Homo sapiens: one gene and its partner. The protein of the gene in region 1 interacts with the protein of each later gene in a biochemical or structural test. Each region holds a gene or a part of one and is shown in the gene's direction. Other genes may lie near its edges.

Region 1 (7,040 bases):
TTTTTAGGAAAGCATTTAGTTACATTTAGTTTATCCAGCGTGTTATCAAAGGGTGCTATATAGTCTCTTCTGTTCTGAGGTCACTGCCTTAAAAATGTTGATGTATGTTAAGTGCTGGGCCAGGCACAGTGGCTCATGCCTGTAATGCCAGCACTTTGGGAGGCCGATGCAGGCAGATTGCTTGAGCCCAGGAGTTCAAGACCAGCCTGAGCAACATAGCGAAACCCCATCTCTACAAAAAATACAAAAATTAGCCTGGTGTTGTGGTGTGCACCTGTACCCAGCTACTCTGGAGGCTGGGGCAGGAGGATCACTTGAGTCCAGAAAGTTGAGGCTGTGATGAGCCATGATTGTGTCACTACACTTTGGCCTGGGCAACAGAGTGAGAGCCTGTCTCAAAATAAAGTAAAAAATAAAATAGTAAAGGTCTTAATGTATTATGGAAGAGCACCAGAATACATCAGAAAAGCCAAATTCAGGTCTAGGAACTGCCACTTTCTAGTTTCATAACCTTAAGCTAATCACTTTATTAATATGGCTTCAGTGTCCTTCAGTAAAATGGGAATGGTAATACTCTACCTTTGCAGGGTTGTTTAAAATCAAGTGAGGTAATTTATGTGGAAATGTTTTTATATAGTAGCATGTATATTTAGAAATCCTCTATTTTCTGTCAGTTCAATTTTGTGGGGAAGATTCTTGGACCACAAGGGAATACAATCAAAAGACTGCAGGAAGAGACTGGTGCAAAGATCTCTGTATTGGGAAAGGGCTCAATGAGAGACAAAGCCAAGGTAAGCTCACATTAGTGAGGCAAGAGGACATCCTAATGCCTTCTACTTGCCCAGAATGCAGTATGGATGTCTTATAGAGGCGGCAAGAATTTTGTATGTGTACAGAATGTGGCTCCTTTAAGTTTGCACTGGATGCAAGAGATTATACACCAAGTTAATTTACTTGGCTTGGCAACCCTGGAAGAGCCTAGGTGTGCCCTGGTGATAGTTTTCTTTTGGACTTTTTGACTGTGTAGTAATGGAAACAGCAGTAGCATGTTGCGCATTGGTAGGATTGTCTGTGAAAACTTGAAAGGGGAACTGAATATACTAAAATTTAGTCTAAAGCAGACAAAAGACGCTAAAATGCAAATAGCACACCCCCTTTTTTGTAACCTGGAAAAGTGAGAACAATAATGTGAGAGCAGATGAGTTTGAGGATTAGTTGGTTTGTTTTATAGCCGGTTTGGAATGTGAGGCTCACTAAAAGAATGTATTCCAAAAGGAACCATGAGTAATCCTGACTACAGAATCTAATGCGTCTTTTTTTTCCCCATGCCATAGCCGCGTACGCTGTGTACTCTGTGACAAGAAACTTCTCACCAAAACAGAATAGTCTTAGCCTTCTGGGGTCACCTTATTTGATGAGATATTCCTGCTACAGTCCAAAAACCAATTCTTTCAACCCTCCTTTTATGTAGTCTAATGGACACATGTTTGTTTTCTCAGGTCATTTCTTGCTAGATGCATATAGTTACGGCTGAAGTGTGTTCTAACTAATGAGATTTACATGAGCTTTTCTTCCCTCTGTCCTGACTTCTTTCTTCCCCTACCACTCCCTAGACCATATAAGCAGATAAGCAGAGCTCGTGGTGATTAACAGCTCTACCTGTGATTTAAAAACAAATGCTTGGCAAACAGCTATTATCTGAATAGACTAGAATTAAGTTTTTCTTCTTTATGCTTTTAGTAGGAGCTCCAATGGATATCTCAGGGATTTAAGACAACAATTAACTGTAAGCAGCAGACCATGTGCAAGTTTAGCAGGCTGTGCAAATTACTGTTCTTGAGAGTTTGTTTTACTTTTTTTTTTTTTCTTGAGAGGGAGCCTTGCTCTATTGCCCAGGCTGGAGTGCAGTGGCTCACTGCAACCTCCACCTCACGGGTTCAAGCAATTCTCCTGCCTCAGCCTCCTGAGTAGCTGGGATTACAGGCGTGCGCCACCATGCCCGGCTAATTTTTGTATTTTTAGTAGAGACGGGGCTTCATCACATTGGTCAGACTGGTCTCGAACTCCTGACCTTGTGATCCTCCCGCGTCAGTCTCCCAAAGTCCTGGGATTATAGGCGTGAGCCACCGCGCCTGGCTGCTTGTTTTACTTTCTTAAACTTTACTGTTTTTCTTTTTTCTTTTTTCTTTTTTTGTTTAATTCTTCTCAGCTCATACCAATTAACTTTACTGTTTTTCATGGACATTAGGGGTATTTCTTGCTGTTCCTTTGGCTTAGAGGTAAAGGTGGTGTTTTCTCCCTAGTCCATGGTGTGACATTTCTCTGCATTTTTCCATAGGAGGAAGAGCTGCGCAAAGGTGGAGACCCCAAATATGCCCACTTGAATATGGATCTGCATGTCTTCATTGAAGTCTTTGGACCCCCATGTGAGGCTTATGCTCTTATGGCCCATGCCATGGAGGAAGTCAAGAAATTTCTAGTACCGGTAAGGAAATCCATATCCTGTGTCTTCTGAGCAAAAGAGAACTGGGATCTTATACTGTTGTGAAGGTAGGGGTTCTTAACTAAGGTCTCTGCATAACCTGTATGTATACCAAATTCTGCACTTATGTTCATTTTCCTTAGGTAGTTCGTTACTTGCACCTAGTTCTCAAAGCATTATGCTCCAAGGCCACTCTATCCCTCCTTGTCTAATGTGGTTTTCATTGTGTACCGGTATCTTGTCAGTATCTCGGGTCCACAGTGTGCCTGCATTCTGATATTTGGTTAACTAAGGTTTAACAGGGTCTTCACCTAGCTGAGTATTTTGGTAGTAGTGTGGAACAAGGAGATTGTGTTAGGAAAGTGACTAAGGTGGGTCTCTGCACTCAAGAAGTTCATGCTGTAGAGAGTAGAGACTAGCAGCAAGAAGCTTATAGCATCTAGTGTTATTGGGTTAAATTCTGACCTGAGCACACTCAGGGATTTCTTTCCTGGAGGAGTTTGCTGAGGACGAGTTTAGTTTGGAAGAGGTTGACTATTGATGTTTAACAGATAGGTGAGCAGCTTTTTTCAGACTATTACTGAGGACTAGATAGAGATGGGACAGGCCAGTTTATCTATCTTGCTTGTTACCACCTTTGAATACTTGGTTGGAATATTACTTTGAATAAATAGGAAATGGTACTATTTTTGCCTTTTAGCAAGGCCTGGTGGTTGTCAGAGTTAACATACTACTGTTGAATATTTAATAACAAGGATGAATCTGGAGACTTATGAAGGATTTGGAATATTATTAAGTAGAATTGAGTAAGCGTCATGTGTTCATCAGAAAACTAGGAGGAGGTAAGATACAGTCCTTGGTTTTCTTGAATGTTAAATGAGGGAATTAGAACTAAATGTGGTGTCAGATGATGTGAAAATTGATAGGGCAAAAATTTATAGGCAGTGTGGGCCAGGCACGGTGGCTCACGCCTGTAATCCCAGCAATTTGGGAGGCCGAGGAGGGCAGATCACCTGAGGTCGGGAGTTCGAGACCAGCCTGACCAACATGGAGAAACCCTGTCTATTAAAAATACAAAATTAGCCGGGCGTGGTGGCACATGCCTGTAATCCCAGCTACTAGGGAGGCTGAGGCGGGAGAATCACTTGAACCCAGGAGGCAGAGGTTGCGGTAAGCTGAGATTGCACCATTGGACTCCAGCCTGGGCAACAAGAGTGAAACTCCATCTCCAAAAAAAATAAATAAATAAGTTTTTAGGCATTGTGTACCCATAATGCTGAACTCCAAGGATTCCAACAGTCTCAAATGTCTTAGCAGCTGCTTTGCTTTCAAGTACCTCATCTTCATTAGAATGTTCAACATGAGGCAGGGCGCGGTGGCTCACACCTGTAATCCCAGCATTTTGGAAGGCCGAGGCGGGTGGATCACGAGGTCAGGAGATCAAGGCCATCCTGGCTAACATGGTGAAACCCCGTCTCTACTAAAAATTCAAAAAAAAAATTAGCTGGGCGTGGTGGCAGGCGCCTGTAGTCCCAGCTAATCGGGAGGCTGGGGCAGGAGAATGGTATGAACCCGGGAGGCGGAGCTTGCAGTGAGCCGAGATTGCGCCACTGCACTCTGGCCTGGGTGACAGAGTGAGGCTCTGTCTCAAAAAAAAAAAAAAAAGAATGTTCAACATGAAACAGACCATTTAACATATCCTAGAGAAAAACACAGCTGGTTAATAATCTTAAGGAAATTCTTTTTACTCTTTTTGGGGTGTTCTATTGATCACCCAAGCCATTCAATTTCCAAAGGACTGCAGAGGGAATGCCCATCTCCTCTCTTCATTGTTAGTCTCCCTCATATTCCTCAGAAGGGTTAGGTTTATGAGGCTTGCTTGTAAGTGAATCTTTTGAAAAAGATGCTTGCCGGGGAGATGTGGGTTTCCTCAGTGTTGATGTGGCAGTTGGAGGAGTCTGAGCAATGGTCTGGCATTGGTTACTTGATTCTCCAAGGTGTGAGTCTCAAGCAGCGGTAATGTGTAAGGTAGGAGGAGCTAGAGAGTTGAGGGGGGCATCAAAGACTAGCATCATCTATTGAAGCTGTATACGCCTGGGATATATAAAAATGCATGAAGTATTAAGACTGAATGGCTCTCAATAGGAAGTGTGAAAAGATTTGCCAGTGGCATTTGATTTTTCCCTCTTGTGGAGGAAAGAAAAGTGAGGCTATTTTTGCATCTGTGACCAGAGCCCTCCATTTTCCACTTAGAACAATTAACTATACCAGCAATGCTTCACAGTGCCGTAGGAAGAGCACTGGACTATGTATGTCTGTCTATCTGTGTCTTCCTGAACAGGTTATCATTTCACTTTTCTGAGCTTCAGGTTTCTTGTTCGTCCCAAACATTTCTTAAGTATCTGTCAGATGTCTGATACTATGCTTGGGTGTAAAGTTACAAAAATGGCTCCTAAAGAGCTTACAGTTTAGTGACAGACAATTCTAAAATTATGTGGTAAGTGCTTGGGTATAGGGAATTATGTGGTACTTTGAGAAAAGAGGAGTTGTAGGGGTGGCATCAAGAGAAAGTTTTTCAAGAGACACTTATTTAGGCAAGTCTTGTAAGGATGAATTAAGAATCCCTCAGGTGGACAAAAAAGACAGTATAAGGACAAAAAAGCCTGTTGATCCAACACCTAGATTTTGAGACAGGTAATTCTGAATTCACATCTAGAGTCTGCCATTTATTAGCTCTGTGTTCTTAAGCTGGTTGATGTATACTCCTTGAGTCTGTTTTCTTAACTGTAAAATGTGGAGATCTGCCTACTTATTTCAGGGTCATTTTGAAGATTTTTTTTTTTTTTTTTTTTTTTTTTGAGATGGAGTCTCTCTCTTTCGCCCAGGCCGGACTGCAGTGGCGCTATCTTGGCTCACTGCAAGCTCCGCCTCCCGGGTTCTCGCCATTCTCCTGCCTCAGCCTTCCGAGTAGCTGGGACTACAGGTGCCTGCCGCGCCCGGCTAATTTTTTTGTATTTTTAGTAGAGATAGCGTTTCACCGTGTTAGCCAGGGTGGTCTCGATCTCCTGACCTCGTGATCTGCCCGCCTCGGCCTCCCAAAGTGCTGGGATTACAGGCGTGAGCCACTGCACCCGGCCCTCATTTTGAAGATTAAACTGAAAAATCTATATAAAGCTTATTATATAGAGCCAAGTGCATACAGCTCCATTAATGGTAGTGGCTTTTATTATTCCAGGAAAAGGAAACTATTTGCAAAGAATGGATATGTAAGAGTATGCCAGGCTCTGAACTACAAGTTGTTCAGTCTGGCTTGTGAGTAGGTTATATATAGAGAGAGAATGGAAGTGATCCGGAGAGCTAGGCAGAGACCACATTATGAATAATGAGGGGTCTACCATCAAGACTTTTCTCAAAGAGGTGACAGATAGGGTGCCATTTGACTTCAGAGAAGGAATGACCTGAGACCTCATCTGGGCTCTCAAGAGCTCTTCTTAGAATTCAAGTCTCCCGTGGACCAGATGATTTCTCAGTAGAAAGTGTAGATACCACACAATACTCCTTGTATCTTTCGTTCCCAGGATATGATGGATGATATCTGTCAGGAGCAATTTCTAGAGCTGTCCTACTTGAATGGAGTACCTGAACCCTCTCGTGGACGTGGGGTGCCAGTGAGAGGCCGGGGAGCTGCACCTCCTCCACCACCTGTTCCCAGGTAAAAATAATGGAGACACCCAGAAATAGGATGTGAATTTGACTACTAGTGTCATCTCTTTTAGTGGTGCTCTTATGTCTAGCTTAGGAAGGGTCTCAGGATTTGTATGTTGCATAAAGAACAGAATTCTACAACCATACTCTCACACCTGTAATCCCAGCACTTTAGGAGGCTAAGGCAGGCGGATCAACTGACATTTGGAGTTTGAGACCAGCCTGGCCAACATGGTGAAACCCTGTCTCTACTAAAAATACAAAAATTATCCAGGTGTGGTGGCATACACCACACTACTCAGGAGGCTGGGGCAAGAGAATTGCTTGAACCCAGGAGACGGAAGTTGCAGTGAGCCGAGATCATGCCACTGCACTTCAGCCTGGGAGATAGAGCAAGACTCCATTTCAAAAAAAAAAAAAAATAGAGTTCTAGATCTTGGGCACTTTGACCATAGCCAAGTGCTGCAGTCTAGCTGAAACTTTTGGTCTTCTAATTTTGGACAGTCTTAGCATTTGTTAATGGTCTGACTTTAAAATTCTACCTTTTGTGACTGACCTTTATAGAGTATTCAGACTCTCCAGACCTACCCAAGGCAGTGCAGTGATGAATTGGTCCTCTATAGGACCTGGGGGATCTTGCAGTGTGGGTCCTTTACCCTGTACATTCCTCTGTGCTTTAATAATAGCCTAGTTAAGGCTTCATAAAATCTGCCTAATTCCAGAATTTGTAAACAAATCAGAACATAAAAGTGGCCTGTTTATAAAAAGCTCCATTTAAGATAAACTTTCATTTTGTAGGGGCCGTGGTGTTGGACCACCTCGGGGGGCTTTGGTACGTGGTACACCAGTAAGG
Region 2 (5,155 bases), on another chromosome or scaffold:
TGCACTCCAGCCTGTGTAACAGAGCAAGACTTTGTCTCAAAAAAGTAAATAAATAGGGCCGGGCACGTTGGCTCATGCCTGTAATTCCAGCACTTTGGGAGGCTGAGGTGGGAGGATCACGAGGTCAGGAGATCGAGACCATCCTGGCTAACACGGTGAAACCCCATCTCTACTAAAAATACAAAAAATTAGCCAGGCGTGGTGGCGGGCACCTGTAGTCCCAGCTACTTGGGAGACTGAGGCAGGAGAATGGCGTGAAAGCCGGGAGGCGGAACTTGCAGTGAGCTGAGATGACACCACTGCACTCCAGCCTGGGCAAACAGAGCGAGACCCTGTCTCAAAACATAAATAAATAAATAAATAAATAAATGTAATGACTAAAGGAATAAAAGTAGAATGTATAATTTCTAAACCAGAAGAAGATAAGCAGGAAATCAAGAAAAGTCTGTAGATCCAAAGGAGGAAGGGAGAAAACATATACACACACACACACTCTCACACACACAAACACACACATAGAACATTTTCAAAACTTGACCATGTACTCAGTCATAAAGCAGGTCTCAACAAATTCCAAAGAACATATATTCTATAGACCATGTTCACCAACCATGATATAATTAAACTAAACACTTTTTAAAAAAGGATAACTATGCCAGGTGCGGTGGCTCACACCTATAATCCCAGTGCTTTAGGAGGCCAAGATGGGAGGATCACTTGAGCCCAGGAGTTTTGAGAACAGGCTGGGTAACATAATAAAACACTGTCTCTACAAATTTTTCTATTTTTTTATATTTTATTTTATTTTATTTTATTTTATTTTTGAGACGGAGTCTGACTCTATCATCCAGGCTGGAGTGCAGTGGTGTGATCTCGGTTCACTGCAACCTCCATCCCCTGGGTTCAAGTGATTCTCCTGTCTCAGCCTGTAGCTGGAACTACAGGCACCTGCCACCATGCCCAGCTAATTTTGTATTTTTAGTAGAGATGGAGTTGGCCAGGCTGGTCTCGAATTCCTGACCTCAGGTGATCCTCCTCCTTGGTCTCCCAAAGTGCTGGGATTACAGGCACAAGCCACCATACCTGGCCAAAAAAATTTTTTTAATTAGCTTGGCATAATGGGGCACACCTGTAACCCCAGGGGCTTGAGAGGCTGAGGCAGGAGGATAGCTTGAGGTCAGGAGTTCGAGGCTTCAGTGAACTATGATTGTGCCACTGCGCTCCAGCCTGGGCACTCTGTCTCTAAAAGAAAAAAAAAATGAAAAGGCTAACTAAACCCATGTCAGACTAGGTGGGAGGAAGGGCGGGTAAAGGGAGAGACACATAGTGACTGGTGGGAACCTCATGGGCTGAGAGCCAGAATCCTCCCTTTTCCCATCGCCCAGGATGAGAGGACTGAGGCATCAGCTGCAACCTGGACTCAAGGCCCCCTGAAGTCCTTCTGTCCCCAAAGACCTGTGACCTCTGGGATTCCACTCTTCGGAGTTGCAGTTAACTGGGGTATCAGCTGAATCAACGAGGAGGATTCTAGAGTGAACTTCCACACCATACCCCAGGCCCCTAAGCCCACTCCTCCTTGTTTAGCCATCTGTCCTCAGGATGGATGTCCCTTGCTTCCACAGGGAGGCCACGTATCAGGGAAATTGCAGGTCTGCAGGGGCAGATGTTGGCAGCTCTTGCCCTTGCCTGTTCCCCCACCTTAGCAGAGCCAACCCTCACTACTCCCCAGCCTTCCCCGACTCTGCTCTGTTCAACCCTGCAGGGGCCAAGTTCCCCATCAAGTGGACAGCTCCTGAAGCCATCAACTTTGGCTCCTTCACCATCAAGTCAGACGTCTGGTCCTTTGGTATCCTGCTGATGGAGATCGTCACCTACGGCCGGATCCCTTACCCAGGTAGGGAAGGGGCATCAGCTCAGGGCTGCTACCAGGGCCCAGTCTGGCAATGGGCTCATCTCAACAACATGTCCATTCAAACTGAGTTCTTGATCCTCACCCCCAACCTTCCCTCACCTTTCCTGTCTTAGTTAAAGGCACCTCCATCCATCTAATGTCTTAAGCCTGAAATCTGGGGGCTTCCTTGGCCCTTCCTTCTCTCTCACTCCTATGACTTTTTTTTTTTTTTTTTTTTTTTTTGAGACGGAGTCTCCCTCTGTCACCCAGGCTGGAGTGCAGTGACGTGATCTCGGCTCACTGCAACCTCCGCCTCCCAGGTTCAAGCGATTCTCCTGCCTCAGCCTCCTGAGTAACTGGGATTACAAGCATCCACCACCATGCCTGGCTAATTTTTGTATTTTTAGTAGAGACGGGGTTTCACCATGTTGGCCAGGCTGGTCTCGAACTGCTGACCTTAGGTGATGCGCCTGCCTCGGCCTCCCAAAGTGCTGGGATTACAGGCGTGAGCCACTGTGCCTGGCCTCACCCCTATGACATCTGAGCAGTCACAGGGTTTTGGCCACTCGACTCCAAAACATATCCCAAGTCTCACCACTTTGAACCCCACAGTCTCCACTGCATCCAGGCCAGCGTCATCTCCCATAGATGGTGCAGCGGCATCCTCATCAGTCTTACTGCTTTCTCCCTCCTCGTCCTACAGCCTATTCTCCACTTGCAGCCAGAAGGATAATTCTAAACTTTAAATCAGATCTTGTCCTTTCTCCACCTTTTTTTTTTTTTTTAAGACAAGGTCTCACTCTGTCACTGAGGCTGTAGTGCAGTGGTGTAATCATAGCTCATGGCAGCCTCGACTTCCTAGGCTCAAATGATCCTCCCGCTTCAGCCTCCCGAGTATCTGGGACCATAGGCACATGCCACCATGTCTGGCTATTTTTTATTTTTTTAATTTTTTTGTAGAGACTTGGTCTCACTACGTTGTGCAGCCTGGTCTCTAACTTCCAGGCTCAAACGATCCTCCAGCCTTGGCCTCCCAAAATGCTGGGATTACAGACACACACCACCATGCCCAGCTAATTCTTTAAATTTTTTGAGAGACAAGGTATTGCTATGTTGCCGGGCTGGTGATTTCCATTTTTAAGCGATGCTTTCAGCATGGAGAGTGAATGGGAGGGAAAGGGAACAGGGTGGCAGCCAGTGAGGAGGCCACAGCAGTGGCCCAGGCAGAGGTGATGATGGTCTGGACAGGGTGGTGGCATTCGTGACTGGCATACGTTGATGAACTGGTGCTACGTTTCAAAAGGAGAAAAGATCTGACTTGCTGACTTAGGAGGTGAGAGAGAGAGAATAAAGGATGATTACCCTGGCTTTGCACCACAGGGTGGGTAATGGTCTAGGGATAGAAATTGGAGAGCTCTGTTTTAGCTCTGCTAAATTTGAGTTGACTTAAATATAGAGACATCCAAGTAAAGGAAGCACTTGAGTTCATGAGTTTGGAGTTTGAGACTAATAATATAAAATTGGGGATCACAGACATTGAATGGCTATTCTTATGAATAGCTAATAGAAACTTGAACTGAACAAAAAAATGGTCCCACCCATAGGTTAACATTGAATCTGGCCACCTGAATGTTTTGTCTTGAGGGTGCACTAGTCAAAACCAGGCAACACACAATAGACGCTGAATCCATTAGGATGTGTTCCACAGCAAGCAACAAAATAACAGACAAAGAGTAACTGAAATAGAAGCAATCTATTACTCCCAATCTTCCATTGGTGACTGGTTAGTTCAGCAACTCAGCAGCTGTCAGGACTCTGGGTTCCTGTCTCTATGATGGTCTTCTCCATGTTGTCAGCTCCAAGTATCATAAGTATCTCACAGTGTTCAAAGGAAGAGATGAAGGGTGCGTTCTCCAAAGACTCTCCTCTAAGCGGGAGGAAAAACCTTTCCATCACTTTCCCAGCAGACCTCCCCATCAGCTCCCATTGGCCCAAACTGGGTCCCAGGCCCATGTCCTAGCTGCAAGTGAAGCTGAGGGTGGAAGTCTGTCTTTCACAGTGGAAGGGGCTCAGCTTGCAAGGTGAGGTGGGGAGTGATGCCTGCTGGGGAGGCCACAGGGCCTGCCACCCCTGGGCTCTCATTTCCCAACTGCTTCCGTTTCTAATTCCACGGCTCCTTTTCAGGGATGTCAAACCCTGAAGTGATCCGAGCTCTGGAGCGTGGATACCGGATGCCTCGCCCAGAGAACTGCCCAGAGGAGCTCTACAACATCATGATGCGCTGCTGGAAAAACCGTCCGGAGGAGCGGCCGACCTTCGAATACATCCAGAGTGTGCTGGATGACTTCTACACGGCCACAGAGAGCCAGTACCAACAGCAGCCATGATAGGGAGGACCAGGGCAGGGCCAGGGGGTGCCCAGGTGGTGGCTGCAAGGTGGCTCCAGCACCATCCGCCAGGGCCCACACCCCCTTCCTACTCCCAGACACCCACCCTCGCTTCAGCCACAGTTTCCTCATCTGTCCAGTGGGTAGGTTGGACTGGAAAATCTCTTTTTGACTCTTGCAATCCACAATCTGACATTCTCAGGAAGCCCCCAAGTTGATATTTCTATTTCCTGGAATGGTTGGATTTTAGTTACAGCTGTGATTTGGAAGGGAAACTTTCAAAATAGTGAAATGAATATTTAAATAAAAGATATAAATGCCAAAGTCTTTACCAAAACGTTGGTTTTCCTGTCCTTCCAATTCCTGAATATCTATTTGCCTTCTTGCTGTATGACAAGTCAGAAATGGTGAAGGACTCTCCCGGGGACCAGAAATACAAAGACAAGTGGGGTTCAGACTGGGTGCTGTGGCTCCCACCTATAATACCAGTGCTTTGGGAGACCGAGGAGCGGGGGATTGCTTGAGCCCAGGAGGTCGAGGCCACAGTGAGCTATGATCGTGCCACTGCACTCTAGCCTGAGCGACACAGTGAGACCCTGTTTAAAAAAAAAAAAAAAAGATGAAGAAGAAGAAAGAAAGGAAAGGAAAGAAAATTGGGGTTCAATGCTTGAGGTTTTCTAACTGCCCTAAAATAGTTACTGGCTATATTAGTTTCCTCTTGCTCCTGTAACAAATTACCACATATCTGGTAGCTTAAGACAACAAAACTGCATAACATTACTTGGCCGGGCATAATGGCTCATGCCTATAGTTCCAGCATTTTGGGAGACTGAGGTGGGTGATCACTTGAGATCAGGAGTTCGAGACCAGCCTGGCC

The links.
Region 2: the proteins of KHDRBS1 (region 1) and HCK interact in a biophysical measurement, tested with the Homo sapiens proteins (2 studies listed by BioGRID and IntAct, with this or other methods).

What each region holds. Positions count from the first base shown.
Region 1 is NC_000001.11:32,030,850-32,037,889, forward strand, and holds part of KHDRBS1 (KH domain-containing, RNA-binding, signal transduction-associated protein 1), read left to right. Parts: intron 1-674; coding exon 675-791; intron 792-2,338; coding exon 2,339-2,485; intron 2,486-6,060; coding exon 6,061-6,194; intron 6,195-6,985; coding exon 6,986-7,040. UniProt on the Homo sapiens protein: Recruited and tyrosine phosphorylated by several receptor systems, for example the T-cell, leptin and insulin receptors. Once phosphorylated, functions as an adapter protein in signal transduction cascades by binding to SH2 and SH3 domain-containing proteins.
Region 2 is NC_000020.11:32,097,242-32,102,396, forward strand, and holds the end of HCK (tyrosine-protein kinase HCK), read left to right. Parts: intron 1-1,762; coding exon 1,763-1,894; intron 1,895-4,075; coding exon 4,076-4,278; 3' UTR 4,279-4,615; downstream 4,616-5,155. UniProt on the Homo sapiens protein: Non-receptor tyrosine-protein kinase found in hematopoietic cells that transmits signals from cell surface receptors and plays an important role in the regulation of innate immune responses, including neutrophil, monocyte, macrophage and mast cell functions, phagocytosis, cell survival and proliferation, cell adhesion and migration.